Homo sapiens: one gene and its partners. The protein of the gene in region 3 binds, or shares a complex with, the protein of the main gene of each other region. Each region holds a gene or a part of one and is shown on either strand. Other genes may lie near its edges. The genes, in order: SMARCC2, PBRM1, SMARCD2 and SMARCC1.

Evidence for each region.
Region 1: SMARCD2 (region 3) and SMARCC2 share a complex: the UniProt entries of both Homo sapiens proteins name them as parts of the BAF complex.
Region 2: SMARCD2 (region 3) and PBRM1 share a complex: the UniProt entries of both Homo sapiens proteins name them as parts of the SWI/SNF-B (PBAF) chromatin remodeling complex.
Region 4: SMARCD2 (region 3) and SMARCC1 share a complex: the UniProt entries of both Homo sapiens proteins name them as parts of the BAF complex.

What each region holds. Positions count from the first base shown.
Region 1 is NC_000012.12:56,172,325-56,179,902, reverse strand, and holds part of SMARCC2 (SWI/SNF complex subunit SMARCC2), read left to right. Parts: intron 1-846; coding exon 847-906; intron 907-1,055; coding exon 1,056-1,093; intron 1,094-1,368; coding exon 1,369-1,499; intron 1,500-1,809; coding exon 1,810-1,881; intron 1,882-5,138; coding exon 5,139-5,252; intron 5,253-6,053; coding exon 6,054-6,207; intron 6,208-6,873; coding exon 6,874-6,966; intron 6,967-7,198; coding exon 7,199-7,318; intron 7,319-7,412; coding exon 7,413-7,475; intron 7,476-7,578. UniProt on the Homo sapiens protein: Involved in transcriptional activation and repression of select genes by chromatin remodeling (alteration of DNA-nucleosome topology).
Region 2 is NC_000003.12:52,584,539-52,592,116, reverse strand, and holds part of PBRM1 (protein polybromo-1), read left to right. Parts: intron 1-2,861; coding exon 2,862-3,047; intron 3,048-4,606; coding exon 4,607-4,764; intron 4,765-5,428; coding exon 5,429-5,692; coding exon of another isoform or gene 5,693-5,704; exon of another isoform or gene 5,705-6,936; intron 6,937-7,578. UniProt on the Homo sapiens protein: Involved in transcriptional activation and repression of select genes by chromatin remodeling (alteration of DNA-nucleosome topology). Required for the stability of the SWI/SNF chromatin remodeling complex SWI/SNF-B (PBAF).
Region 3 is NC_000017.11:63,832,277-63,839,854, forward strand, and holds part of SMARCD2 (SWI/SNF-related matrix-associated actin-dependent regulator of chromatin subfamily D member 2), read right to left. Parts: intron 6,453-7,578; exon of another isoform or gene 6,406-6,452; coding exon of another isoform or gene 6,334-6,405; intron 5,350-6,333; coding exon 5,165-5,349; intron 4,962-5,164; coding exon 4,919-4,961; intron 4,769-4,918; coding exon 4,646-4,768; intron 3,292-4,645; coding exon 3,136-3,291; intron 2,525-3,135; coding exon 2,429-2,524; intron 2,300-2,428; coding exon 2,198-2,299; intron 2,053-2,197; coding exon 1,891-2,052; intron 1,731-1,890; coding exon 1,633-1,730; intron 1,447-1,632; coding exon 1,311-1,446; intron 1,145-1,310; coding exon 1,022-1,144; intron 895-1,021; coding exon 793-894; intron 716-792; coding exon 662-715; 3' UTR 1-661. UniProt on the Homo sapiens protein: Involved in transcriptional activation and repression of select genes by chromatin remodeling (alteration of DNA-nucleosome topology).
Region 4 is NC_000003.12:47,659,464-47,667,041, reverse strand, and holds part of SMARCC1 (SWI/SNF complex subunit SMARCC1), read left to right. Parts: intron 1-3,107; coding exon of another isoform or gene 3,108-3,429; intron 3,430-4,290; coding exon of another isoform or gene 4,291-4,322; intron 4,323-4,449; coding exon 4,450-4,708; intron 4,709-5,347; exon of another isoform or gene 5,348-5,477; intron 5,478-5,586; coding exon 5,587-5,748; intron 5,749-7,578. Other genes in the region: HIGD2AP2 (HIG1 domain family member 2A, mitochondrial-like), read right to left, coding at 3,108-3,429, 4,291-4,322. UniProt on the Homo sapiens protein: Involved in transcriptional activation and repression of select genes by chromatin remodeling (alteration of DNA-nucleosome topology).

The DNA of each region.
Region 1 (7,578 bases), on a different chromosome or scaffold from region 3:
CCATCCTGGCTAACACGGTGAAACCCCATCTTTACGAAAAATACAAAAATTTGCCAGGCGTGGTGGTGGGCGCCTGTAATCCTAGCTATTCGGGAGGCTGAGGCAGGAGAATCACTTGAATCTGGGAGGTGGAGGTTGCAGTGAGCCGAGATCGCACCACTGCACTCCAGCCTGGGCGACAGAGCGAGACTCCGTCTCAAAAAAACAAAACAAAAAACATGAAGAGAAGTTCTGTATTCTCTCCCTGAGTTGCAGTGGATCATCTTTTGCGTCCTATGTTAGAACCCCACTTTGGAGACATTGCTCCACCAATACTGGTTTACAGTCTGTATTCTGTAGACTCACCCCAGGTATTCCAGAAGTGTATTTCAGGGGTAGGATTAGGGCTGCCACCAAGAAGAGTTCTGGCTTCTACCTCCTCATCAATCAGCTCTCTCTCTTCTCTATGTTTGCTCCTGAGCATATGTATATGAATTCAGTTGAGGAAAGTATCCTCTGCTTTCAAAAATGTTTAACACTTAACCATTCTTCCACAGAGTGATTTGGTCAGATTCAGTATCAGACCATTAAAAGCTTACAGATACATAGATGGAGATAAAGGCCTGTCAAAGACAAGAATCATTTATGAATGTACATAGAGAAATAAGTTAAATTAATTTTTGGTTGGAGAAGTGGGGAAAGTAGCAAGAAGTTTGAAGCCCTAGAATAATTGTGACTGGAGAGAATTACTATATTTTGCAATCAGGTGGAGACAATTTTTGGAGAAAGTAGGATGTCTGGAACTATTAAATTGAAGGCTTGAATTAGGCAAAATCTGTCTGATAAAATGACTCTCTGTTTTCGCAGTCAACACAAAGAAAGACTCAGAGTCGGCCCCAGTCAAAGGCGGCACCATGACCGACCTGGGTAAGACAGGAGCCTCTTGGGCACGGCAGTCAGAGCCAAGGGAAGGGGAGGGCTCAGCTGCCCCCTTTTCGCTAGCCTGATGGGCTTTTGGTAGGGCTTTCTTGCCCCTCAGGAGGCTCCAGCCTTACATCTTGGTTTTTCTCTTTCAGATGAACAGGAAGATGAAAGCATGGAGACGACGGGCAAGGTGGAGCCAGTTTAGAGAGGCCCTACCTCTCTATGTGATTCTGATTTGTGATTATAAAGTTCATTCTGCCCAAACTTTTCACTGCCCAGACTTTACCCACTGTAGACTAATTCCAGCTTTGTTCAAAACTCTGACCCTTTCAGAGTCCTGGGGCCCATGACTGCTCAGTCCCATCACCCATCTTTAGTGTCCACATTCCTGGGGTGTGGGAGAAGCAGAGGGTTGCTAGGGAGGAAGCAGGAATGCTGAGTGTCCAGCAGCCTCCATACTCGTAGGATGAGGATGAGAACAGTACGGGGAACAAGGGAGAGCAGACCAAGAATCCAGACCTGCATGAGGACAATGTGACTGAACAGACCCACCACATCATCATTCCCAGCTACGCTGCCTGGTTTGACTACAATAGGTATGGTTGTCCCCAACTTCTCACTGAGTCCTTATTTCCCTGCCTCCAGGGGTCAACAGGCTGTTCTTCTCCCTGCCTCCTCCAAATAAGTTATTTTTTCCTCACCCAAATAGACCAGAGTACACTTTAGTTTTAGGGGAGCTCCTTGTGTCCTTTTGAGTCTTACAGCCTGTGGGATGTTCTCCCCAAGCTTCTAACTTCAGCAATTTCGAGCTCTTTTCCTTCTTTGCCTTCTAGGCTTTTCCTCCCTTTGGGGCCCCCATCCCTTCACCAATGCCTTCTTCTGAAACCATTCTGGCTTTTCTTGCAGTGTTCATGCCATTGAGCGGAGGGCTCTCCCCGAGTTCTTCAACGGCAAGAACAAGTCCAAGACTCCAGAGATGTAAGGAAATCTCATCTCATGATTCTCCTTCTCCCTCCTGTCCCCACATTCACCCTTCCTGATCCAGTAACATTCAGTTTAGCAAACATTTCTTGAGCATCTTCCATGAGCCAGGCACTATGCTAGGCTTACAAAGGCACAATATCTGCCTTTAGGCAGCCCTGGCCTAGCATGTAGACACATGTTCTTTAGGATTTGCCCAAGGGTGATATTAAGCATGTTCTATACATAACAAGTACCTACTCCAGTGCCTCAACTTCTTTTTAACAGGGTATAGAGCCTTTAAATCCATATTACTGATATCGTCTATACTGCAGATATTCCTAGCACAAAAGTTTTGATTAAAGTGTAAATTACTATTACCAGGCTGGTTCCTGAGAGTAGGTTTTAATAGAAAAACAAGAGAAGGAACTAATAGAAGACCAGTTTATATAAATTAAGGGATGGAGAGGGCTCACTGGGAAAGAAGTGTAGGAGCCACGGTGGCTCACGACTGTAAATCATCCCAGCTACTTGGGACACTGAGACAGAAGGATTCCTTGAGGCCAGGAGTTCAAGAATAGCATGAGCAACATAGCAAGACTCCCATCTCTAAAGAAGTGAAAAAAAATTAGCTGGGCCTGGTGGGGCATACCTGTGGTCCCAGCTACTTCGGAAGCTGAAATGGGAAGATTGCTTGAGCCCAGGAGTTTGAGGCTGCAGTGAGCCATGATCACACCACTGCTCTCCAGCCTGGCTGACACGGCAAGACCCCGTATCTAAAAAAATTAATGAACAAGGCTGGGTGTGGTGGCTCACGCCTGTAATCCCAGCACTTTGGGAGGCCGAGGCGGGCGGATCACAAGGTCAGGAGATCGCGACCATGCTGGCTAACATGATGAAACCCCATCTCTACTAAAAAGACCAGGCGCGGTGGCTCATGCCTGTAATCCCAGCAATTCGGGAGGCTGAGGCGGGCGGATCACCCGAGGTCAGGAGTTCGAGCTCAGCCTGACCAACATGGAGAAACCCCGTCTCTACTAAAAATACAAAACTAGCTGGGCGTGGTGGCACGTGCCTGTAATCCCAACTACTAGGGAGGCTGAGGCAGGAGAATCGCTTGAACCCGGGAGGCGGAGGTTGCAGTGAGCCGAGATTACGCCATTGCACTCCAGCCTGGGCAACAAGAGTGAAACTCCGTCTCAAAAAAAACAAAAAAACAAAAACAAAAAAAATTAGCCGGGCGTGGTGGCATGCATCTGTAGTCCCAGCTAGTCTGGAGGCTGAGGCAGGAGAATCACTTGAACCTGAGAGGCAGAGGTTGCAGTGAGCCGAGATCACGCCACTGCACTCCAGCCGGGGTGACAGAGCGAGACTCCGTCTCAAAAAAAAAAAAAATTAGCTGGGCGTGGTGGCAGGCGCCTGTAGTTCCAGCTACTTGGGAGGCTGAGGCAGGAGAATGGCATGAACCTGGGAGACAGAGCTTGCAGTGAGCCGAGATTGCGCCACTGCACTCCAGCCTGGGCGACAGAGCAAGACTCCGTCTCAAGAAAAAAAAAAAGATTTTGCCTCAGGCCAAACCTGCTTGGCTTTGGATAAGACATGGCAGTCTTCTTTGGTTAGGAATACTTCAAGATAACCACATTGATGAGGTGGGTGAGACTGAGAACTGAACAAGTTTTCTTCCCAGCTATTCCACAGCTTCCCCTCTCTGGGGGTCCCTCCGTGTTTTTTCTTCATAGCTTGCTATGGTTCTCTCTTCCTTCTCTTCCTGGAGAAAGCAGTATGTGTGAAAAGAAAGTAGTGATCAGGTGAAATGAATTCAACATGACATGCAGGCAGGGTTGGAGTAGGAACTGAACTCTTGGTATAAAATAGTAAATGATGGCTGGGCATGGTGGCTCACGCCTGTAATTCCAGCACTTTGGGAGGCCCAGGCGGGCAGATCACGAGGTCAGGAGTTCGAGACCAGCCAGGCCAACATGGTGAAACCCCGTCTCTACTAAAAATACAAAAATTAGCTGGGTGTGGAGGCACGCACCTGTAATCCCAGCTACTTGGGAGGCTGAGGCAGGAGAATCACTTGAGCCCGGGAGGTGGAGGTTGCAGTGAGCCAAGATCTCATCATTGTACTCCAGCCTGGGCAACAAGAGTGAAACTCCATCTCAGAAAAAAAAAAATAGTAAATGATGATAATTGCCTGCATCTATTGAGAGCTTAGTATCTCCCAGGCACTATACTAAATGTCCAACCTACATTGAGTAATTTAATCTTTACGTCAACCTTAGAGGTAGATATCATCTTCAGTTGACAGATAGGGTATAGAGGAGTCAAGTCACCTGCATAAAGTCACAGAGCTAGTAAATAAAACCAGGATCTGAATCCTTTAATCTGGCCCATGATCTGAAACTTTACACTGTACCACATGATAGCTGCCATTTTTTTGAGCCCCTACAATGCGCCAGGCACTATACTAGTACTTTATAGACCTCTCAACAGACATTCCATTTTACAAATGAGGAAACTGAGGTTTAAAAATTCGAAGTAAATTGCCAAGGTCCTCATGGTAGAACTGGGATTTGAACTTAGATCTTTTCAACTTCAAAACATATGTTTTTTACCGTGGTATGCTGACTAGCTATATGCATGAATAAGGACTTCCTTTTAACATCTGAGTTTGGAAATGAGTATTTTCTTAACTTCTAATTCCTTGTTTAAAAATTGTATAAAATGGCTAGGTGCAGTGGCTCATGCCTGTAATCCCAGCACTTTGGGAGGCTGAGGCAGGAGGCTCACCTGAGGTCAGGAGTTTGAGACCAGCCTGACCAACATGGAGAAACCCTGTCTCTACTAAAAATACAAAATTAGCCGGCCGTGGTGGCACATGCCTGTAATCAGAGCTACTGAGGAGGCTGAGGCAGGAGAATCTCTTGAACCCAGGAGGCGGAAGTTGCCATGAGCCAAGATCATGCCATTGCATTCCAGCCTGGGCAACAAGAGGGAAACTCCATCTCAAAAAAAAAAATTGTATGAAATATCCCTAAGTATAGCCAAGGAGATAATTCATTTAAAGAAAACCCCATCAAGGAAAAGTAAGACATATTTGAAACCCTTTCATCTAGCACATAGCAGGCACTCAGCATGTAGAGTCAAATAATCTACTTTTTTCCATCTTTATCATGCAGGAGAAGTCATTAGCTCTCTTACCATTTTTTCCTTTAGCCCTTTAACAAACATTTATTTTTCTTCTTCTTGTTTCTCTCTCTCTTTCTTCTAAGCTACCTGGCCTATCGAAACTTTATGATTGACACTTACCGACTGAACCCCCAAGAGTATCTTACCTCTACCGCCTGCCGCCGAAACCTAGCGGGTGATGTCTGTGCCATCATGAGGTGGGTCTTGTGGCTGAGGGGAAGGGGGTACATGAGGATGCCTGCCTATGGATGTGTTTTGGCAACAGTAGAGATGCCAGCAAGGAACACAGAGGAGCAGACAGAAAAAAGCACCTCTAGAGAAAGGTGAAGTACAGGTTTGGGGAATGAATGACTTGAGGGATTAGCAATGGCATTCTCTGAAGTGTAGAATATAGGACAAAGAAGGAGCATGTCTGTAATTGAAAGATACTGGTTCAGGCCAGGTGTGGTGGCTCATGCCTATAATCCAAACATTTTGGGAGACCAAGGTGGGAGGATTGCTGGAGCCCAGAAGTTCGAGACCAGCCTGGACAAAATGGCAAAACCCCATCTCTAGAGAAAATGCAAAAAAATTAGCTAGGCATGGTGGCACGTGCCTGTGGTCTTAGTGACTCAGGAGGCTGAGGTGGGAGGATCCCCTGAGCCCTGGAGGTGGAGGCTGCAGTGAGCGGTGATCACACCACTGCACTTCAGTCTCTCTTAGGGAAAAAAAGAAAGAAACTGGTTCAGTTTTACTAGCTATTCAGGAAGAAATGTTCGGTAGGTAGGTAGATATAGAGATTGGCCCAGGCTGAAGATGTAGACTTGGGTGTCACTGGCATTTAGGTGATAAATGAACAACTGGAGTAGGTGAGATTTCTTAAGGAGTACAATGAACAGAGGAAAAGGCCGGGGTTGGGTGGGGAGGGGGTTTATGCCCCTTCTACCCCCCACTTTTCCTCTTCCTCGTGCACCTTTCTGGCTATCCGTGTGACCCTGTCTCTGCCTCTCTCTGCACAGGGTCCATGCCTTCCTAGAACAGTGGGGTCTTATTAACTACCAGGTGGATGCTGAGAGTCGACCAACCCCAATGGGGCCTCCGCCTACCTCTCACTTCCATGTCTTGGCTGACACACCATCAGGGCTGGTGCCTCTGCAGCCCAAGACACCTCAGGTAGGGTGAGGTGCTATGGGGATGGGGCGGGTTGGGAAGATTGGGCTTCTTTGAACTTTTCTTTTTCTGGTTTTTAGGGTAATGGTTCAGGAGTGTTTTGAGGCTTCTTCCTTTTCCATGGGATGCAAAGGGTCACGGGAATCAGCCCCATGTGTTTAGCATCCTCTCTCAGCCTTTGTACCTAAGGCTGTAATTGCTGAGGGAGAAGAGATTATCCTTTTACTCAAGGAGTAGACAGGCTAATGTAGGGGAGTCAATAGAGAAAAATGGCTTAAAATTAACTTGCATGAAATTTTTAAACTTTGTCATCTTTGCCACATTTTTTCATTTTTGCCTCATAATTATCATCTTCATTTTTTTTTCCATTTCCACTTCATCCATTACAAAAATTAGGAAGAAGGTTATGTGGCTTGCCCAAGGTCACAGAGTACCAAATCTAGGATTAGAACCTAATTGTCCAGCTCCTAAGAGAACCTATAAAGATAATGTGAATATGTATGGATATCATGCCAACGACATGTCTTATTAATCATGAAGGGAACATGGAACAGTGGCATGAGTGCCCCCAGAGCTTGTGGGCCGCCCAGCATATGGTCTTGAGGCCTCCAGGGCCTTGGCCTGGTCATTTCCTGCCCAGCCTCCATGACGCCAAGCTCTGTCCCCCAGGGCCGCCAGGTTGATGCTGATACCAAGGCTGGGCGAAAGGGCAAAGAGCTGGATGACCTGGTGCCAGAGACGGCTAAGGGCAAGCCAGAGCTGGTAGGTGGGGTGCAGACCCTGCTGGGCTGCTCATTTTCCCCTTTATTGGGGGGCCCCTGCCCGGGAAGAAGAGACATGAGAGCAGAGGAACTACAGCAGTAAGGGAGGAAGTCCCACCCAGGGGTGTCCCTGGCTTTGGGAAAGAAGCTCCTTCTGTCTGTTTTTTCTCTCTGTCAGCCCCTGGCTCCCGGTGGTCACTTGTACTCACCTGTTTCTTTCCCTCCACAAATAGCAGACCTCTGCTTCCCAACAAATGCTCAACTTTCCTGACAAAGGCAAAGAGAAACCAACAGACATGCAAAACTTTGGGCTGCGCACAGACATGTACACAAAAAAGAATGTTCCCTCCAAGGTAGGAGGTGCGGGCCGACTCTAGGGGTAGAGAATGTTCGCTCCTCAGAGGTCACAGGCTCCTTTCTTCTCACCTGCCTGTGTTTCCCCTGCAGAGCAAGGCTGCAGCCAGTGCCACTCGTGAGTGGACAGAACAGGAAACCCTGCTTCTCCTGGAGGTAATTGGGGCAAAGAAAAGAGAGTTTTTCTCTGAAAACAGAAGTGGGCTCCGTGTAGAGGCTCACGCCTGTAATCCCAGCACTTTGGGAGGCCAAGGCAGGA
Region 2 (7,578 bases), on a different chromosome or scaffold from region 3:
GCAGTGGCTCACACCTGTAATCCCAGTACCTTGGGAGGCTGAGGCGGGTGGATCACAAGGTCAGGAGTTCAAGACCAGCCTGGCCAAGATGGTGAAACCCCATCTCTACTAAAAATACAAAAATTAGCCGGGCATGGTCGTGGGCACCTGTAATCCCAGCTACTTGGGAGGCTGAGGCAGGAGAATTGCTTGAACCTGGGAGGCAGAGGTTGCAGTGAGCCGAGATGGCGCCACTGCATTCCAGCCTGGGCATCAGAGCATCAGAGCAAGACTATGTCAAAAAAAAAAAAAAAAAAAAAGGCCGGGCGCAGTGGCTGACGCCTGTAATCCCAACAGCTTGGGAGGCCGGGGCGGGTGGATCACGAGGTGAGAAGTTCAAGACCAGCCTGGCCAAGATGGTGAAACCCCATCTCTACTGAAAATACAAAAATTAGCCGGGCATGGTGGTGGGCATCTGTAATCTCAGCTACTCAGGAGGCTGAAGCTGGAGAATTGCTTGAACTTGGGAGGCGGGGGTTGCAGTGAGCCGAGATCATGCCACTGCACTCCAGCCTGGGAGACAAGAGCAAGACTCCGTCTCAAAAAAAAAAAAAAAAAAAAAAAAACAAAGACAAAAACTACATTATCTCAATAGATGTAGAAAAGGCTTTTTGACATATTAAAAACTCTAGATAAACTAGGTATTAAAGAAACATACTTCTAAATAATAAGAGCCATCTATTACAAAGCCACCCAACGTCATGCTGAAATAACCAAAAGCTGGAAACATTCCCTTTGAAAACTGACACAAGACAAGAATGCTGTCTCCCACCACTCCTATTCAACATAGTACTGGAAGTCCTGGCCAGGGCAGTCAGGTAAGAGAGAGAAATAAAGGGTATTCAAATAGGAAGAGGGAAGTCAAACTACGTCTCTTTGCAGATGACTTAATTCTATATCTAATAAACCCATAGTCTCAGCCCAAAAGCTCCTTCAGCTGATAAACTTCAGCAAAGTGTCAGGATACACAATCAGTATACAAAAATCACTATCATTCTTATACACCAATAGCAGCCAAGCCAAGAGCTAGATCAGGAACGCATTGTCATTCACAATTGCCACAAAAAGAATAAAATACCTGGAAATACAGCTAACCAGGGAGGTGAAAGATCCCTACAATGAGAATTACTCACTGCCCAAAGAAATCAGAGATGACAGATGCAAATGGGAAAACATTCCATGCTCATGGATAGGAAGAATCAATGTTATTAAAATGGCCATACTGCCCAAAGCAATTTACAGATTCAGTCCTAATCGTATGAAATTACCAATGACATTCTTCACAGAACTAGAAAAACTATTTTAAAATTTAGATAGCCAGGCACGGTGGCTCACGCTTGTAATCCCAGCACTTTAGGAGGCTAAGGCGGGCAGATCACTTGAGGTCAGGAGTTCAAGACTCTGGGTGACAGAGTGAGACTGTCTAAAAAAAGAAAAAGAAAATTTAATGTTTCAGGAGGAATAAAATAAATAACATTTAAAATGCTTATTATTAGCTCTTCCATTTATGGGAAATTAACCTAAGGAAGTAATCAAAGATTTGGGCAAAGCTTTATCCTCAATAAAAACCCTGTGATATTTGCAAACGATAGCTTGTACTGGAACTTTTTTTTTTTTCTTTTGAAATGGAGTATTGCTCTGTCACCCAGGCTGGAGTGCAGTGGCCTGATCTTGGCTCACTACAACATTCACCTCCCAGGTTTAAGCGATTCTTCTGTCTCAACCTCCCAAGTAGCTGGGACTACAGGCACCTGCCATCATGCTGGCTAATTTTTTAATATTTTTAGTAGAGATGGGGTTTCACCATGTTGGCCAGGCTGGCCTTGAACTCTTCTTGACCTCAAGTGATCCGCCCGCCTCGGCCTCCCAAAGTGCTGGGATTACAGGCGTGAGCTGCCGCTACCGGCCTGTACTGGAACTATTAATAAGTTTTACTTAACAAAAATAAAAGTCATCTGGGCGCGGTGGCTCACGCCTATAATCCCAGCATTTTGGGAGGCTGAGGCAGGCGGATCTCAGGTCGAGAGATCGAGACCAGCCTGACCAAGATGGAGAAACCCCATCTCTACTAAAAATACAAAATTAGCCAGGCGTGGTGGTGCATGCCTGTAATCCCAGCTACTCGGGAGGCTGAGGCAGGAGAATTGCTTGAACCTGGGAGGCAGAGGTTGTGGTGAGCTGAGATTGTGCCATTGCACTCCAGCCTGGGCAACAAGAGCGAAACTCCGTCTCGAAAAAAATAAATAAATAAAAATAAAAGTCATTTTGAAAAGCATTTCCTCTCAGGGCTAGTGTTCTTGATATATTAAGTATATATACTAGATATAGTTTATAGTATATTGTAGAATATATGTATTCTATATTTCTTCAATTCTAAGACTCCATTAAATGTGTCATATTCGTGTAATAACTTAGTGAAATGAAACACATTAAGAAGCATTAAGGTGGGGATGAAGTATATCAGAGATTATCTCTAGAATTACTTGATTCGAAACGACATACGTACTTCTTTGTGCCTTTCGATATTATCCAAAATGTCCATATGATCATATATTAGTAAGGTGATGTTTTTATTCTCTACATCCTTTGTGTAGTTATATATTCATTTAAATTAATGATGGTTGTAATTCAAAGATAGTTTTGAGTAGAGGCTATTAGGAATGTGAAGATCATACTATTGCTGATTCCTGCCTTCGCATGTTGCAAATGGAATTAAATGTATTAAATGTATTATTAGTATGTGTTGTTTGAACCCTACATCTGACTTCAGCATCCCTTTGGTGAGTACCTTTTTCCTTTATTTATTTATTTTTTTACCTAAGAAGCTGAAAAGAGTGAAGATTCCTCTGGTGCTGCAGGCCTCTCAGGCTTACATCGCACATACAGCCAGGACTGTAGCTTTAAAAACAGCATGTACCATGTTGGAGATTACGTCTATGTGGAACCTGCAGAGGCCAACCTACAACCACATATCGTCTGTATTGAAAGACTGTGGGAGGATTCAGCTGGTAAGTTTGTTTTAAATCAAAGGACAGTTTAGTGAGATATGACTGTTTGACTTCTCCTTGCTCCTCAGGGAAGAAAATTTTAACTCAGACATCTTAAGCCTTTCCATAATAATTGTTCAATATGTCAATAAATGTAAGTAAGCACCCATCATATGAAAAACATAGGACCTATTGGGCAAGTGTCACAGTTGAGTCAAAAGAAATACAGCTTCTAGGTCGGGCGCGGTGGCTCACGCCTGTAATCCCAGCACTTTGGGAGGCTGAGGCGGGCAGATCACAAGGTCAGGAAATCGAGACCATCCTGGCTAACACAGTGAAACCCTGTCTCTACTAAAAAGATACAAAAAATGAGCTGGGCCTGGTGGCGGGCGCCTGTAGTCCCAGCTACTCGGGAGGCTGAGGCAGGAGAATGGCGTGAACCCAGGAGGCGGAGCTTGCAAGGGAGCCGAGATCACGCCACTGCACTCCAGCCTGGGTGACAGAGTGAGACTGTCTCAAAAAAAAAAAAAAAAAAAAAGAAAGAAATACAGCTTCTTAAAGTCTGGTTGAGATTCATTCATTCATTTGATACTTATTAAAAACATACTTTGAGCCAAACTTTATGTAGAGTGACATAGATTCAGAAGAACAAAAAGCTCATATTTTCCCTTGCAAAACTACTCCAGTAAGGAAGATTATGATCAAAAAAGAAATTATTATAGAATGACATGCCTTGGCTTAGCATTTGTTTTCAAAAAGGCTTTCTAGAACAGTTGCCTTTAAATTGAGACATGGAGTATGCATAGAAATTAATGAAGCCAGAAGTTGGTGGAAATGTGATCCAGGCAATCCAGTTCTTTGAGCTGCCTATCACATGAAATACTTTTGTATTCCTTCACCAGAGAGCTAAATATGTCCTTCAGTAGCATATCTGTCCCCTTACTAAAGTGCACAACTCTAGGTATGTACTAACCAGAGCAGAGTGGAGCAGGTCTCATCACCTGTCCTCCTCATTATGTACTTTATATGGCTTTTAATATGAAGAAGAGCCTGGGCAACATGGCAAGACCCCTTCTCTAGAAAAAATAAGAAAATCAGCAGGGTGTGATTGCACTTGCTGTGGTCCCAGCAACTTGAGAGGCTGAGGCAGGAGGATCACTTGAGCCCAAGAGGTTGAGGGTGTATATATATATATATGAGGGGGGAAAAGTAGCATGCATTTTTTAGGCCTCATTACACTTTATTATTTTTGAGTATTATTTCTCCTGTGGATAATTATATTAAACTGTAGCTGTAAAAATAAGCACAGTGCTAGGTTCATGTCATGGCAGAGTGGATTGATGGTGTATTTCCTAATTTTGCAAAGAATGTGTGATTTCTGAGCTGGACACAGTGACTTATACTTGTAGTCCCAGCTACTCAGGAGGCTGAGGTTGGAGGACCACTTTGGCCCAGGAATTCAAGTCCAGCCTGGGCAACGTAGTGAGACCCAGTCTCTTTAAAAAAAAAAAAAAAAAAAAGTGATTTCTGTTAACAATGATTCTCTTTCTCTTCCCCTTCCCCCACCCCCCATTTTTGAGGTGAAAAATGGTTGTATGGCTGTTGGTTTTACCGACCAAATGAAACATTCCACCTGGCTACACGAAAATTTCTAGAAAAAGAAGTTTTTAAGAGTGACTATTACAACAAAGTTCCAGTTAGTAAAATTCTAGGCAAGTGTGTGGTCATGTTTGTCAAGGTAAGAAACTCATTAAATCCCAAAGTCTCACTCATTCCCTAGGAATAAAATTTTAAAACACAGAAAATAATCGATGTTTACAAAATTAGGAACTCTGTTTTAAGCTATTTTTTAAGCCGTGTCTATATAGCTATATGAAAAGATTTGGGAAGAAATTAACCTGAACTTCGTTGTGAAAGACCACTTGCTGCTTACACTATTTGGCTATAATGCAGTTAGGTTAAGTTTTTAATATTGCCAGGCTAATTTTTAAGTATGATGTTTTTTTAAGGATAATCATTACAAATTTTCAGTTTGTTTTTTAGGTAATAATGTGTGCTTTTGTGTGTCTGTCTGATACACACACACAAGCCCTCTTCAAAGCTTTAAGGAACATTATAGCTATATGAAATGTTCATATGTTTTCAAAGAGCAATTGTAAGCTAAATGGAATTATTTGTTTTTATAATTTAAAGGGTGTGTATATAATAAGTCCATTCCGTAGCCAAAGAAATACTTCTAAATCTCTGGTCATTTATTATTTTTTGTTAACTGCCAGAAAGTCTGTAATCAGTTCAGCTTTTGTTTGGTTGGTTGGTTATTTGCTTTTTTTTTTTTTTTTTTTGATTGATTTTCAGAAAATTCACCTAACTAGTTTTATTCTTATGCCCTCCCCACCCCCCAGGAATACTTTAAGTTATGCCCAGAAAACTTCCGAGATGAGGATGTTTTTGTCTGTGAATCACGGTATTCTGCCAAAACCAAATCTTTTAAGAAAATTAAACTGTGGACCATGCCCATCAGCTCAGTCAGGTTTGTCCCTCGGGATGTGCCTCTGCCTGTGGTTCGCGTGGCCTCTGTATTTGCAAATGCAGATAAAGGTGATGATGAGAAGAATACAGACAACTCAGAGGACAGTCGAGCTGAAGACAATTTTAACTTGGAAAAGGTATGCAGATAATAGCCACACAGAAAAAATTTTACATCTCAAAACACCTATTCCAGAAAATAAATGAATAAAGTATTCAAACTTAGAAAAAGAGCAACAACACAAAACCTTAGCCAAACAGGAAGAAGGAAACTATAACAGAAAGAAATTTACACTTTCAAAACTGTACATTATAATTTAAAAGTAAATCAGGCCAAGTGCATTGGTTCACGCCTGTAATCCCAGCATTTTGGGAGGCCAAGGCGGGCAGATCACGAGATCAGGAGTTCGAGACCAGCCTGACCAACATGGTGAAACCTCATCTCTACTAAAAATACAAAAATTAGCTGGGTGTGGTGGCGCGTGCCTGTAATTCCAGCTACCCAGGAGGCTGAGGCAGGAGAATGGCGTGAACCTGGGAGGCGGAGGCTGCAGTGAGCTGAGACCACGCCACTCTACTCCAGCCTGGGCAACAGAGTGAGTCTCTGTCTCAAAAAAACAAAAAATTTTTTTAAAGTAAATCTAAGAGCTAATTATTTGACAAGTCCAATTAGATAAACTGCCAACTATCTAATAATGGGAAAAGAAAGGGGTTAAACTTCGACACAAAATGTGGAAGAAGGCCAGGCGCGGTGGCTCACACCTGTAATCCCAGCACTTTGGGAGGCCAAGATGGGTGGATTACCTGAGGTCAGGAGTTCGAGACCAGCCTGGCCAACGTGGTGAAACCCTGTCTCTACTAAAAATACAAAAAATTAGCTGGGTGAGGTGGTGGGTGCCTGTAATCCCAACGGGAGGCTGAGGCAGGAGAATCGCTTGAACCCAGGAGGCAGAGGTTGCAGTGAGCCGAGATCGTGCTATTGCAGTCCAGCCTGGGCAACAAGAGCGAAACTCTGTCTCAAAAAATAAATAAATAAATAAATGTGGAAGAAATGTAAAGACTGTATATTTCTGCTAATAAATTTGAAAACCTAAATAAAATGGCTAATTGTCTAGGATATTACAAATTACCAAAATGGAATCAAGAAGAGATATAATACAGAATGTACAACAACATGAAGAAATTTTTTAAAGTATCATAGAACTGACCCCAAAGAGTACTGAGGTCAGACAGTTCCATAGGTGACTTTTTCTTTAAGGGACCTATGATTATTATACTGTTGAAGCTGTTTCAGAGCAGGGAGAACAAGAAATTTCCAGTTTGTTTTGCAAAGCCAAGATAATCTTGATTTCACAACCTGAAAAATAAAAACAAAAAACTGCAACTCAGTCTTATTCATGTATATTGATGCAAAAATTACTTGGGGGAAAAAGTAAGTGAAATCAAATTACTTCTTTGAGAACAACATGACCAAGAAGTGGGAATTCATTCTAAGAAAGCAAGAATTGTTCAAAGTTAGGGAGATCTTTAAATTTCATTCATTATTCCATTAGATCAAAGGAAAGATTATTTGGTAGAGAACCCATCTTGATTTTTTTTAAGACTTTCAATAGGTATTTCTTCTAGTGTAATTTTTTTTTAAATTCATATTTGTGTCTCAAGCCTGAAGCCTATAAAACAAATTCCTTTTTAAATTTACACACTGGACAAAGGGGCTTACTGTTCTAGTGTTACTTAATATTTTTTGAAATTAGCCAATGTAGTTAGATAAACAAAAGCAGTAAAAATATTGACAATAAAGAAGCAAGATGGCAGGCGTGTTGGCTCATACCTGTAATCCTAGAACTTTGGGAGGCCAGGGCAGGTGGATCGCTTGAGTCCAGGATTTTGAGACTAGCCTGGGAATCATGGTGAAACCCCATCTCTACAAAAAGTACAAAAATTAGCCAGGCATGGTAGCACATGCCTGTAGACCCAACCACTTGGATGGCTGAGATGGGGGTATCCCATGAGCCCAGGAGGTAGA
Region 3 (7,578 bases):
CGGCCCAAGCCGCTGGAGAGGCAGCCCTCTGGCATCCCAGGAGATGATGGCGGCCAGAGCCGCTTGCATAGATTGAGGAAAGAAAAGAAGGAGGCACCTAACAGGCTCCCTGAAAACCCCCAACTTACCCCTGTACAAAAAAAGTGGCTCCCACATAGAAAACTTGCTCCCAAAATAGTGCAAATACCCAAAGGAAAGGAAAAAACCAGCAGCAAGGCTGGGCTTGTAGGAATGGCAAAGAACTTTGGTTTAGAAAGGCTAGGAAGAGTCTGGGCTGCACCTCCTCTTCCTAGCCCAGCTCCCCAGAGCCAGCTCTGACCCTCGCCCCAGGGGGAGTCTGTAAACATGCAAACCCAGCAGCCTTTGGTTCGGAAATGTCTTACAATGTCAAAGCACAGCCTCCAGCAGTCCTACTTGGGCCTGCCTGCAGGGGGGCAGAGGAGGCATCTGCTGAACCCAATTAAAGCCAATGCAAAAAGTATAAGGCTTTGGGGACCAAGCAACAAGGAATCCTATCACTACATTTATAAGACTAAAGCTGGAGAGTAGAGGGTGACAGCAGACACTCCTCACCCCAGCCTACGTGTCTGCGGCCCCAGCAAGGACCCAGAGGGTGGTCTCCCTCCAGGCTCCAGGGCTGGGAAGAAAGATCCCTGAGCAGTTAGGTCAGGCGAATTCCCAGCACCTGTTCCAGTTCCTGCCTTCGCTGCTGCACCTGGAGAAGGGAGAAACCAAGTGGCTCAGGCCTTTGCTACTCACGGCCAAAGGAGGGAAAACAGGGCAGAGCCTCACCTTGGCAAAGATGTGCCTGCCTACTGCTTCCTGGGCCCAGGGCTGGTGGTAGAAAGCAGCTCGTCTCTCCTCCTCAGGATTTCCAATCACATCAGTGATGATCTGCAAAGAGCCAGGAGGAAAGCCATAGCATAATCCCCACCCCTGGGCTAATCCACCCTGGGAACTGCTGTGGGTAAAAATCACCCAGAGCTTTACATAGGAGTCCCCTCGGGAAAGAGGACTACACCTTGAGGTCTCGGCGCTGGGAACGGAGCCATTCCTGGATGAAGTCCTGGGGGTCGGTGCTAAAACTGAGCATGAAATCTCTCTGGGTCTTCAGCTGGTTGATGGACTCAATGGTCTCATGGATCTGGAGAGGGTACCTGTGTCAGACTGTGCCCCCAAAGCTTACATGCAAGCAACTGAGCCAGAGTTCCCATCCCGTCCTCCAGGTGCTACATGTATGGAAATGCTGGACAGAGCCAGCCCACCCCAATCCTGGGCCCCAGAGGAAGCTGTGGAGCCAGAGGGCCCACCTTGACATCAAGGGAGGCGATCTCCTGCTGATTGGTGGTAGAGGCCAGAAAATTGCTCATTTGGGCCTTCAGTGGGTCGTCCACCTCCACATCGATGTCGTAACAGGCTGTCTTCTTCTGGTCGTTAGGGTCGACACTGCAGGCAGCACATGGGGAGGGAAGGCACATAGCTGACTTCATCCTGCCCACCTGGGCCAAATCTGGGGCCCATTCTCTGCACACACTCAGGGAAAAAGAAACCTGATGCTTTCTTTGGCTTTAGTTCAAGCCAAGGGTGAATCTGCTCTTAGAAGAGCCTTCCTGTCCCCCTCCTTGCATTTACCTAATGACATGGTTGATGACAATGGGGTCTGGATGCTGCAGCAACCCTGCCAGCTTCATGGGAATCTCGGAGAAACGGAGTCGGCCACAACTGAAGATCTGGAGGAAATACGAAAGGCTCAGCGTTGGCTTGTGGGCACAGTGGAGTGGACCATTCCAGGACCAGTGAGGGCAGCAGTCTGCAGGCTGTGGCCAAGGAGTAGCCCAGCAGGCAAGGCAAAGCAAGGGCTGAGAAAACGGGGGCTGGCATCTGGCTAACCTGGCGGAAGTAACGGTTGCAGTTGATGTACTCCCGCTCGTGCCCATCCTGCAGCTGGTTGTGCTTGATGTAAAGCCACAGGGCCTGCATGATGGCGGCCCTCGTCTGCGTGTGCACTCCCAGCAGCCTTGCCAATCGGGGGTCCAATTTGTACTGGGGAGGCTGGAGTTGGATGGAGGGGAGTCAGAACGGGTTCTTATAGTAGAACAGTGGGAAAATAGGGCAGGGACAGGAAGGGTTTCTAGGAACCAGCTCCCCTCCTGAGGGGTCCCTGTGGGCCCAGAAATGACCCCAGGGTCTCTGTCACCTGATGATCCAGCATGAGCAGGAGGGTGCACTTGACGTTGAGGTCTCCAGGCCGTTTTACTTGGAAGCCATCTGTCTCCTGGGTGGTGGGCATCCGGTGCCACTGGCAGGGAGGGAAGCATGGCTTATCACCAAGGGGGTGGGCGTGAACACAGGGCCTCCCAAGGGCCCTGAGGCCATTTCCCTGCCAAACCTGCACATCAGCCTGCTTTTGCCCCAGGCCCACTCTCACCTCCACCAGGTGATTGTCAGGCCCGTACAGCTCCTTGTCCAGCTCAATGACGAGGCTCTTAAAGAATGAAGAAAACTTCCTCTTCTGTTTGCTAGGCTGGGGATGGAAAGGGGTGTGAGATGGTGCTGCTGAGCTCTCAAATCTCAAGCTATGCTAAATCCCAAGAAAGAGAAGCCCCATTTCAGCCCTGGAGCTCCGGATACTGAAGATTCCTGGGCCCTGAAGGATGGAAGCAGGACTCTGGGCAGACTGGAGGCAGGGAAATGGTGCCCTCTTGCAGCCCACGAGGGACTTCCTCGAGACACTCGACTGCCATCTGCAGGAACACTGTAATAACCACACAAATCAACCTCCAACGGGCTTGGAGCAGCGCCCCCCTCCCTATGGCAGGACTTCTCTGGGAGCGCCCAAGTGTCTGGCCCAGTCTTTTTTTTTCTGAGACACAATCTCACTCTGTCACCCAGGCTGAAGTGCAGTGGTGTGATCATAACTCACTGAAGCTCGACCTCCTGGGCTCAAGCCATCCTCCTGCATCAGCCTTATGAGTAGCTGGGACTACAGGTGCATGCCACCGCACCCAGCTAATTTTTAAATTTTTTGTAGAGATGGGGTCTGGCTCTGCTGCTCAGGCTAGTATCAAACTCCTTGGTCTCAGTCTTAAACCCACACAGGCCTCCTTCCCTCCAGAACCTCCCTCCCCAACTCACATCATCCAGCAGTTTTCCTTCCACTCGGAGTTCCCAGGAAGCCACCTTGTCCCCTGCTGGGGTTCCCCCAGGGGTCCCTGCAGTTCCTGCACTATCGCCTTCCGCCTTGCTGGGACTGAACGTATTGGAAATGTAGATCCGAAGCTTTCGCTTTTGCTAAAGAGAGAAAGGCAATCACAACTGGAGGTGGACCAAGATGCTGGGACACAGTGCTACCGCATCTTCTCATATGAACCATTCAACAATCAGTACTGAGCACCATGAGCCAGCCAGGCACCTTGTCAGGTACTGGGAATCAGAAGTAGTAAGTCCCAGTCCCAGCCTTTTTTTTTTTTAGACATGGTCTCACTCTGTCACCCAGGCTGGAGTGCAGTGGCGCGATCTCAGCTCACTTGCAACCTCTGACTCCCAGGTTCAAGCGATTCTCTTGCCTCAGTCTCCCATGTAGCTGGGACTACAGGTGCGCACCACCATGCCCAGCTAATTTTTTGTGTTTTTGTAAAGATGGTATTTCAACATGTTGGCCATGCTGGTCTCAAACTCCTGACCTCAGGTGATCTGCCCACTTCGGCCTCCTAAAGTGCTGAGATTACAGGTGTGAGCCACCGCACCTGGCCGGAACTCACCATTTTATGGGGAAAGAGATGCATCACCAACAATGCCAGCACAGTGGGACTGGTGCTACGGCATGATGGAGTAACACGCAGCCAGTCTCTGGCTCACATCTTACATGAAACCCAAACACCCATCACGGCTCCAAAATATCCTAGTCCCCTGGAAAGGCTTCACCACTCGGGACTGTTCTACATTATTATTAAGAAAAGCTTCTCGGCTGGGTGCAGTGGCTCACGCCTGTAATCTCAGCACTTTGGGAGGCCGAGGCAGTCAGGAGTTCGAGACCAGCCTGGGTAACATGGCGATACTAAAAATACAAAAATTAGCCGGGCGTGGTGACAGGCATCTGTAATCCTAGTTACTCGGGAGGCTGAGGCAAGAAGAATTACTTGAACCTGGGATGCGAAGGTTGCAGTGAGCCGAGATCGCAACACTGCACTCCAGCTTAGGTGAAAGAGCGAGACTCCATCTCAGAAAAAAAAAAAAAAAAAAAAAAGAAAATTTCTCTATGGATGGGGAAGGGGAAGGAGAAAGGAACTACCTTTATCCCCTAGTCTAGTGGTTTTCAAACTTTTGACCACCACCCATAAGATTTACATTTTCAATTATGACCCAAGGTCTGCATATCTATTTATCAGAAACAAAAATGTCATGAAAGAATCCATTTACTACTATGGTAAGTACTACTGTGAAGTATTTTAAGATTTTCTACTGTCATATATTCATTTAAAACATACTGGCCCCAACACATTCAACTGAGTTCGTACTCTACTAGTGGGCTGCATCCTGCATGTGAAAAACCCGGCTCTAGCCCAACTTGCTTGGCCCCTGGAAAACAAGGGGGTGGAAGGCAAGGAAACCTGGGAAGGCTAGAGGTGGTCAGGGCCACACATACTGTCAGAGGCTTTTTGATGGCCTCCTGGATCTCCATCCGCTTGCGAGCAATGGTCTGGTCCAGCTTCCGCTCAAAAGCCAAGAGATCCATGTACGCCTGAGACTCTGGAACAAGCTCCCGGATCTGAAGGAAGGTAGCAGAAGCTCATCAGCTTGCTTCAGCCAAAGCCTGGCTCTTTCCTCCCTTCCTGCTGCAGCCCAGCTTTGAGAGAGATGGACACCCACCCCAAGGTGGCCACTGGGCAGGCCTCCCAGGTGTCCTCTTAACACTTACTCGCTGAGGTAGAACCTTATCTGCCATCTTCCTCCTCTTTAACCTGGGGAGGACAGAAACCCACTTAAGAGGTCAATGGTCCAAAAAAGGACACTCACTCCCATAACGCCCCTCCAGTCTCCAGGACCCTCTCCCCCAGGAGAGCCTGGAGTCATCCTCAGTCACCAAAGCTCTTAAGATAGAAGGAAACCCTCTGCTACCACCAGAGCTGAGTTAGGCAGAGTGAGAGAAGCAGGATGCTCTTACCCCCGGCGCTGGGCAGGCATGGGAGGCTGCGCCTGGGGCACAAGCAGGCGTTTTCGGAATGGATCCATCATGGTGGGTGGCATGCCAGGTCGAAGCGGAGCTGCTGCACCAAATGGGGAGCCAGCAGGGGGTCCCACCTGCAAGCCAGCCATGGGCATCCGGTTCCCTGGTGACATGCCAGGTCGCTGGGGGAAGTGAGCCAACGGGGGTGCATAGGTCAGGGGCAAGGCCCTCCGGGACCCATAGCCCATGCCCTCCATCCCTCTCGTCAGCCAGGTAGGGCCTGAGCAGCACACCAGAGCCCTGCTGGAGCCCCAGGAACAAAGGGGAGTGGGCGCCTGAGCACAGAGTGTAAACCACACCTGCCCTGCCCCCTGCAACCGCCCTGGCAGCCATGCCAGCGAATGAGGCCTGCCAGAACCTGGGCTGGGAGGAGGGTCCTGCCTGCAGAGGGAAGGGCCTTGGGGAGCTTTTCAGGGCCCATTGCTACCTTCCAGCCCCAGCATGCTGTGCCCTATTCCCTGGGCAAGCTGGTCCCTATTCTCTCAGACAGTCCTGCCAAGCCCTGCCCTCCTTCTCTTTCTCCCATCATGAAGAAGAAGCATGGCTGAGAGGCACAGGGGCAGTGTCACTGCCAGGCAGAGGAGTGTACTATAGTATGAGTAGGCCAATGGCGCAGAGCCCCAATCCCCATCCTCTGTGGCCGAGGGAGAAAGGGGTCTGGTAGGCAGCAGCACCCCAGGTGAGCAGGGCTGCAACAGGATGGCTTGGAACGTGTACCAGCTGGTGGGGGTGGCCTCGGGCAGGGTACAGGGACCCTGTACCCTGTAGTCTGGTATCACATAGCCCCCACCCACAGCCCAGAACTGGACCCTCCTCTTACCTCCCTACTGCCCAACTACTACCCCTATGACAGAAGACCCCAGAAGGGAAGCTATGGCTCCTGGGTGGCCTGTGGGAAAGAGAGCAGCTAGCACCTGGACTCTGCCAGTGGTCCAGGCACCACCTGGCAGCCAGGACTGGCTCTGGCTCCGTGTAGCCCTGGCAATCCCAAGCTGGAGAAGGGGGCTAAGATTATCCTGGGAGGCAAGGATAGAGGCCCAGGCTGAGCAGCAGGAAAGTGGGAGACAGAAATAGCTTCTTTAGATGCCTGCAGAAGGATTTCCCACCTGAGGCCTTGCTCCCTGACATTTCTGTGGAGCCCATCTGGGAGTCACCTCCACCCCCACCCGCCTCCCCATGGCTGCTGCCTGCAAGGCCTGTTTGGCAGCTCTGCCTTGCACACACTGTCCCTGGCAGCTTCACAGGGCTGGCCCCAGGGCCCAGATTATGCAACGAGCACAACCAGCCAACCAAGCCCGGCAGGGTGGAGACTTGTACCAAATCAAAGGACCCTCCCCCACCCCAGCATCATGGAGATGAGATTCTTCCCCAACCTCTTCATCCCGCACTAAACCCATGTTCCCAACACAGAGGGTCAGATTCTTGACCAGATGCGGAGATGGAAAGAAACATGACCCACAGACGTGAGGATGGGGAGAGGAGGAGCAGGGTGGGACGGAAGTGTTTGGGAGAATAAAAAGTTCAAAGTGGGGGGCTCTGGGGCTTTGGGAGTCCTGCCAAAGTCTCTCTGCATCAGGAAGAGATTAATCAGAGCTGTTGAAAGGCAAAAGACAGCCTCTTTCTCTGCCTTAAAGATTGTTCTTTCTCTGGCCTGAGATTATAGAAAAAAACTAAGTGTGGCTACAGCTGTAAGCCCAGGCCCAGACATCCCAGACTAGTTTTTCCTAGTGCCTGAGACAAAGACAGGGAAGAACTGAAGCAGTGGGTCCTGCAGAGGTGAGCGAGGGCCCTGTGGTCCCCAGGAAGCTCCCTGCTGCAGTGTTCACAAAACCTGCAGCACCACCCATCCCTCCTGGGCAGGTGCTCCGGTAACAGGAAGTCCCAAGACAAGGCCTCATAGGCAGGGTCTGGAATAGGCTCCACCCAGACATCTGCTCCAGGTTTCCTGGGCCCAGAGCCCCTGGCTCACTCAGGGCCCCAGGGGAAGGCTGCTTATAGTTCAAGTCCCAGCTGAGCCTTGCCAAGCTCCATAGGGCTTATAGGCGCTAGCAACTCCTCCCACTTCAAAAAACAAAACAAAACAAAACAAACAAAAAAAAACAACTCAGGAGTTAAAGAAAAAAAAAAAAGCAGTCCAGCACTCTGAGCCTCCCTAACTCCCTGCCTGCAGCAGGACCAGGTAGGCCTGGATCAATCCCCTGAACCCCAGATGAGGAATCCAGGGCTCCGGTGAGCGTGCTTTGCCCTGCCCCAAATGTGGCCCTGATGCTCCTGGAACCTGGGCCTGAGGGCCTCAGTTGGGGAACATACCACCCACTCTCCCATGAGTAAAAAGGATTTTGAGGCCGGGT
Region 4 (7,578 bases), on a different chromosome or scaffold from region 3:
CTGGCCCGAGTTTCTCTCATTTTTTATGCCAGCTAAATAATAGGAAACATAGCATTAGAAGATATTCAGTAACCAACATGAAAGATTTCCTCACAGTGTGCATACACTTTACATACTTTTTCTTGATGCAAAACCCAGGAAATATATCATTCTATGTACTTTTGAACTACACTAAGATGCATAGTAAATCTTCTATTAAAAAACTTTTCTTAAGGACAGAGATGTCCAATCTTTGGCTTCCCTGGGCCACATTGGGCCACACATAAAATACACTAACACTAACAATAGCTGATGAGCTTAAAAAAAAATCCCCCCAAAAAATCATAGTGTTTTAAGAAAGTTTATGAATTTGTATGGGCCACATTCAGCGCCATCCTGGGCCACATGTAGGCTGCAGGCCACAGGTTGGACAAGCTTGGTTTAGCTAAGAGAACCTTTTTTTTTTTTTTTTTTAATTAGGAAAACAGTCTGCCTTTTTACATTTGAGAGCCATAGCAAAGTCAGATTTATTTCTTGGTTTAGTTCAGTTTCCTGTGGTTTGAGTTCAGTAAACTTTATTAGGTATTGTGTTTTGGACACTGACAGACACTGCAGGTAGAGATCTGTAGAACACAATCTGTACCTTTAAGGAATTCATAGTCTGCTTAAGTGACAGAGAAAGATAAAACACAAAGCTTGAATGCGGAATTCCCAGCTTTATGATTAGAGGTATGTCCAGAGCACAAGAGCTGTACAGAGGAGTTGCTTTGCAAACAAGCCAGGTAGATAAGACATAATGAACAGGCTTCTGGGAATGGTATAGCTGTGTTGGTCCTAAAACATGATGTTTCCAGTGCAGAACAAATGGTTCATAGGCACAATACCTAGTAGGAATAGATCAGTGGGGCCTGTGTATTGTTGAAACGTGAAGAGTAGGGAATAGGGCGGGAGAAGTAGGCAGTGTCCTGATCATGTTTGGCTTAATTTCATAAGATAATGACACATAATAAAATAGTTTTAGGCAGGAGAGAAAGAGTGTTTTATGTAAAACATATTTCACCCTAGCAGCGTGGAGAAGGATGAAATTACTATAGAAAGGTAATTATAATAATCGATCTATGAGGCTGAGATGGAAGGATTGCTTGAGGCCAGGAATTGGACAGCAGCTTGGGCAACATAGCAAGACCGTGTCTCACAAAAAAAAAAAAAAGAGAGTGAGTGAGTGTATCCAGGTTAAGTAATGATGAAGACCTGAACCTGGGTTATGGCAGGATGAATGAAGCTGTTTTGTAGCATTATAAGATACTTACTAAAAACTTTCATTGAATCATCCTCCTTCCTGGCCAGTGTGTCACCGCATTATTCTCTTTTCAAAACATCACTTTAATTTGCCTCTCTTATTAGCATTATTATCAGTTCCTAGGCTCAGACATTTACAGATTCTCAACTCTGTGCTCTTCTGGATGCTGAGTCTTGCTTGGATTTTGTATCTCAGAAGTTTCCCCAACTCCACCTTTATTCTGGAAAAAAACTTGATGAACTTTCTTATTGTTCCCTGGCGAAAGGAACATGAAAAAATATTTTTTAATTAAAAATTTCATTGGAAAAGGGCATGATAGAGCATGTCTAGAAAATCCCTATTTATAATTAGAAACATAATACAGCCCCAGTAGATATATTTCTACTTCCGTGGACCCGAGTGAGATTTATTTTTCTTTTTTCTTACAATCTGGATCTTTCAAAAAGTAATTCCTTCTCGAACTACCTGAGGTTACTGAATATCCAGAGGAAACCCAGAATTAGCCTAGTTTTTCAAGGGATTTAATGTGTCAGGCCATTTGCTGGCTTGGGTTTTGAGAAGTCCTCTACCATTCCAGCAGAAATGAAAGCCTGAGCAGCAGTTGGAACCCAGAGTTAAGAATTAATTGATGTCCAGGTGCAGTGTTTCACACCTGTAATCTCAGCACTTTGGGAGGCTGAGGCGGGAGGATTCCTTGAGTTCAGAAGTCCGTGACCATCCTGGGCAATACAGTGAGAACATGTCTCTAAAAATTAAGAAAAAAAAATCTTTGAAGTAAAATAATTAACTGAAAAAGTAAACATGGAGACAACTATTGTTATAGAAAGCTCAATCTCACAGTGTAGAGCAGCAAATTAGGCTCTAATGCAAGGTTTTTCAGTTGGAGCATTCAATATTGACATTTGGGCCAGATTTTTTTGTTGTTGGGGTGGAGGGTTCATATATGTTTTACAGCATACATGGCCCCTCCTTGCTGTTAGATACCAGCAGCACTTCTCCAGTTGGGTCAACCAAAAATGTCTGCAGACATTGCCAGTGTCCTCAAGGGGGCAAAAATTACCCTTCATTGAGAACCATGGTCCTGGAGAGAATGGTGTGAGAGTAGCAACTTCAGTATGCCACTAAATAAATTCTTTTTATCCAATTAATTCCTCAACATTCTTAGCACCACATAGTTGTGGTTTTCTTTCTACTGTTCTATCCGTTTTTCCCTCGGAGACTCCTTTTACTCTTTTTGTTGGTTTCTTTCAGGATTTTCTCTGAAAAAATAATAAATTATAAAACTAGAAATGTATGTAGTTTATAAATTTTAGAATCAGTTTATCAATTTCTACTAAAAAGAAGCCTACTTGGAGTTTGACTGGAATTGTATTGAATCTGTAGTTCAACTTGGAAAGAACTGACATCTTAATACTGAGACTTCTAATGAATGAACACAATATATCTCTTCCTTTATTTGGGTCTTTGAGTTCTCTCATGTTTTACTCATTCTAGTCTGTTGCTCTTATACATTCTTTATTATGTTTATTCCTCCTAAGTATCTCATTATGCTATTTAAGACAGGGTCTTTTTTTTTTTTTTTTTAGAGTTTATTAAGCAGGGGAGTGGAGGGGAGATGTGGCACAAATAGAAGTATGTAACATTCAAACAACAGAAACTAGGATTTTTGAAAAAACTTTCAGTTACAGTTACGCAAAGGGTCACTTCCTCCCCCAACGACGCATGGGCCTCTCAAAGGAGAGGAGGGAGTAAGTCCCATGGTAGGGCCAGTGCTTGCTCCTGGGTTTTGGAATCATTTCTGCGGAGCTTTCAAAGCCAGACCCTGGGCTCAGGGTTGAGACTTCATAGCGGTGACAGCTAGACCCAGCAAGATGGCTGTGACCGTGAAACCCTGGGCGGCGATCCAGGTGCACATCATGAGCTGAGAGCGCTGGCTGTTGCCCCGGTGGAAGGAATAGAGGCTGTAGGTGAGGGCGGCCGCCGTGGCCAGGCAACCTATGGGTACCACCGGGTTCTCGTGGGTCTTGTGAAGGAACTTTTCCTTGAAACTCTCTGGATTCCTGTAAACAGTGGGGCTAAGCCCCTCAATGACTGGGGGCTTCGATGGTTCAAAGGGGACCTCTGGAATCACAGGGCCGGAGTCGCCATGTCTGGGCCACAGCAGCAGGAGAAAATCGCGACCTAAGACAGGGTCTTGCTGTGTTTGTCAGGCTGGCCTTGAACCCCTGGGCTCAAGAGATCCTCTCGCCTCAGCCCCCTGAGTAGCTGGGAGTACAGATGTGTGCCACTACACCCAGCTTTTATGTTATTTTAAATACTTTTTTCTTCCTATTTAAAATTGTTCATTGCTATTATGTATGGAAATATAGTTCAGTTTCTCTATTGCCCTTCTATCCTGTGACTTTGCTCAGCTATTCAGTTTTAGTACTTTTTTTTATAGCTTCCTTAGAATTTTCTACATAAACAGTCATGTCTGTATGTATTAGTAAAAAAGCCCTTCCTTCCTTCCTTCCTTCCTTCCTTCCTTCCTTCCTTCCTTCCTTCCTTCCTCCCCTCCCCTCCCCACCCCTCCCCTCCCCTCTCCCCTCCTCTCCCCTACCCTCCCTTCCCTCCTTTCCTTCCTCCCTCCCTCCCTCCCTTCCTTCCCTCCCTCCCTCCCTCCCTCTTTTCTTTTGTTTCTTCTTTTCTTTCTTTCTATCACTCTTGCCGCCTAGGCTGGAATGCAGTGGCACAATCTCGGCTCACTGCAACTTCTGCCTCCCAGGTTCAAGCGATTCTGGTGCCTCAGTCTCCTGAGTAGCTGGGATTACAGGCACGCACCACCATGCCCAGCTAATTTTTGTATTTTTAGTAGAGATGGGGTTTCACCATGTTATTGGCCAGGCTGCTCTCGAACTCCTGACCTCAGGTGATCTGCCCACCTCTGCCTCCCAAAGTGCTGAGATTATACGCGTGAGCCACCGTGCCTGGACTACTTTCTTTACAGTATGCATGTCTTTTATTTATTTTACTTGCCTGATTGAAAATAATCTAAGGAAACCATCAAATCTTTCTATTTATGCATAAATATTTGCATTAATTTTTTTTAAAAAAGCTATCTAAAGAACTTCTAATATTACACATTACTTTCTTGTTACCTGACATGAAAGCATCTGTTTTTTCTGTCTTAGGCCCTGGAGATGTACAAGGATGATTGGAACAAAGTGTCGGAACATGTTGGAAGTCGTACTCAGGATGAATGCATCCTCCACTTTTTGAGACTTCCCATTGAGGACCCATACCTTGAGAATTCAGATGCTTCCCTTGGGCCTTTGGCCTACCAGCCTGTCCCCTTCAGTCAGTCAGGAAATCCAGTTATGAGTACTGTTGCTTTTTTGGCATCTGTGGTGGACCCTCGCGTGGCATCTGCTGCAGCAAAAGCGGCTTTGGGTATGGACTTCCCTAAACCATCTCCTCAACAGAAAAACTCAGTTTATCCCAATTTAAATATTACCAGCCGTTACATTCATTTCTTTTAATGTAAATAACAAAAATCAGATATTACCTGTGAAAGATACCATATTCTTTATAAAAGTATTACAATATTTGGCTGGACACCAAATTAGCTGGGTGTGGTGGCACATGCCTATAGTCCCAGCTACTTGGGAGGCTGAGGCAGGAGAATCGCTTGAACCCAGGAGGCAGAGGTTGCAGTGAGCCGAGATCGTGCCACTGCACTCCATCCCCTGGGCAATAGAGCAAGACTCCGTCTCAAAAAAAAAAAAAAAGTATTACAAAATTTTTAAGTAATGCACCTTAAAATTAAGAGCTTTAGGAATTGGAGGGACAGAGGTTTTTTATTGTGTATTTTGTGATTAATTTAGAATTTGGTGTAACTAGCAAAGGAAGTCATTTAATATTCATGGGTTACACATTAATTGTAACTAGAACTTTGTCACATCATAGAACTCTTTCTTGGTTTTATGGATGTTTAATCCTTGCTGTTTTTGTTTTTTTGACTTATTAATCTAGTAAGCAGTTAAAATATGGACAGCAGTTTTGATTATTACTGGCATAAGTTGAAAGATCTCTTATTTCAAGGCTCTGTGATGTGTAGGAGAAAATGTAGAACCATAGAATTTCATTATTATTACTATTTTTTGTCTCATTTAGTCCTCTCATTTTTCTGGTATAGAGGGACTGAGAGCCTGAAGAGGTTGCTACACCTAAGACAATAATACTGTGTTGGGTTTCCTGGTGGTGGTTTTACACTGAAGCAAATTTTTGTGCAAAGTTAGATTGCTGTTCCATTTTTATTCTTGAACCAGAGGAGTTTTCTCGGGTCCGGGAGGAGGTACCACTGGAATTGGTTGAAGCTCATGTCAAGAAAGTACAAGAAGCAGCACGAGCCTCTGGGAAAGTGGATCCCACCTACGGTCTGGAGAGCAGCTGCATTGCAGGCACAGGGCCCGATGAGCCAGAGAAGCTTGGTGAGTCACTGCTGCTTTTAAGGGACAGGGTTAATATATGTTTGTATTCCTGTCAGTTTACTCAAATAATTGGGTTTACTTGCACTAAAAAGTGAGTACAATGATCAGTATAAACTTGTCTTTTAAGATTAGTACATGATTTTTTTTCTCTTGTCTGTTTCTTTTGGTAGCTAGAACTAAAAAATTATCTTGTAACTGTTAATGGTATTACAGTTGTGAATTATCTGGTTGCTGTTTGTAGATCCAGGTTTTGAATAGACAGATACAAGAATACTGAAAGATGCATGGAACTGTAGGTGAAAAAAAGAATATTGAAAGGACTTATGATTATGTTAATTTATATGTTGCTGAGTGGGTTTAAATTCATTGTTTTGGGGGTTTTTTTAGCTGAGGAAAAATTCCTGTAACATAAAATTCCTCATTTTAACTGCTTAAAAGTATATAACCTAGTAGCTTCTGCTATATTTACAATGCTGTGTGTCTATCACCACTATCTAATTCCAGAACATTTTCCTCATCCCAATAGGAAGTCACATACTTATTAAGTGGTCACTCCCCATTCCTTTTGCTCTTCAGCTGTGGTACCCACTAACAATCTGCTTTCTGTCTCTATGGGTTTGCCTATTCTGGACATTTAATATAAACAGAATCATATAATATGTGGCCTTTGTGTCTGCTTCTTTGACTTAGCATAATGTTTTCAAGGTTCTTCCATGCTGTAGCATGCATCAGTATCTCATTCTTGTCAGTGCTGATTATTTCTTTGTGTGGATATACCCAATTATATTTATTTGTCAGTTCATGGACATTTTTATTGTTTCCACTTTTTTTTTTTTTTTTTTTTTTTTTAGACAGAGTCTTGCTCTGTCGCCCAGGCTGGAGTGCAGTGGCGCGATCTCAGCTCACTGCAAGCTCTGCCTCCCTGGTTCACGCCATTTTCCTGCTTCAGCCTCCCGAGTAGCTGGGACTACAGGCGCCTGCCACCACGCCCAGCTAATTTTTTGTATTTTTAGTAGAGACAGGGTTTCACCATGTTGGCCAGGATGGTCTCGATCTCCTGACCTCGTGATCTGCCCGCCTCGGCCTCCCAAAGTGCTGGGATTATAAGCATGAGCCACCGCACCTGGCCTATTGTTTCCACTTTTATACTACTATGAAAAATGCTGCTATGAGTACTTATATACAAGCTTTTTTGTGAACTAAGGATTTTCACTTCTTTTGGTTGGGTGTATACCTAGGGGTAGAATTGCTGAGTTATATGGTAATTTTGTTTACCTTTTTGAGAAACTGCCAGCCTGTTTTTCATAGTGGCTATACCATTTTATGTTCTTACCCGTAATGTATAACATTTCTAAGTTTTTCATGTCCTTGTCAATACTTATTTTCCATTTTTACCTGTAATAGCCAATCTAGTGGTTTGATGTTGGGGTTTGTATTTGCATTGATGACTAATCATCTTGAATATCATGTGTTTATTGGCCATTTTTATGTCTGCCTTGGGAAATACCTACTCAGATTCTTGCCCCCCCCCCCTTTTTTTTTTCTTAGTAGACTTTATGTCTTAGAGCAGTTTTAGGTTCATAGCAAAATTCAGTAGACATTACAGAGTTTCTGTATACTGCCTGACTACCCCTACATGCACAGTTTTCCCCACGATCAATACCAGGGTGGTACATTTGTTATAGTTGATAAACCTACTTTAACACATCATCATCAACCACAGTCCAAAGTTTTAGTTTATTCTGTAATTGATTCTCACATGTTGAACCACCCTCCCTTTTTGTTTTTTGGTTTTTATTTTGATAAATCCGACATGGCCTTTGTAAATAA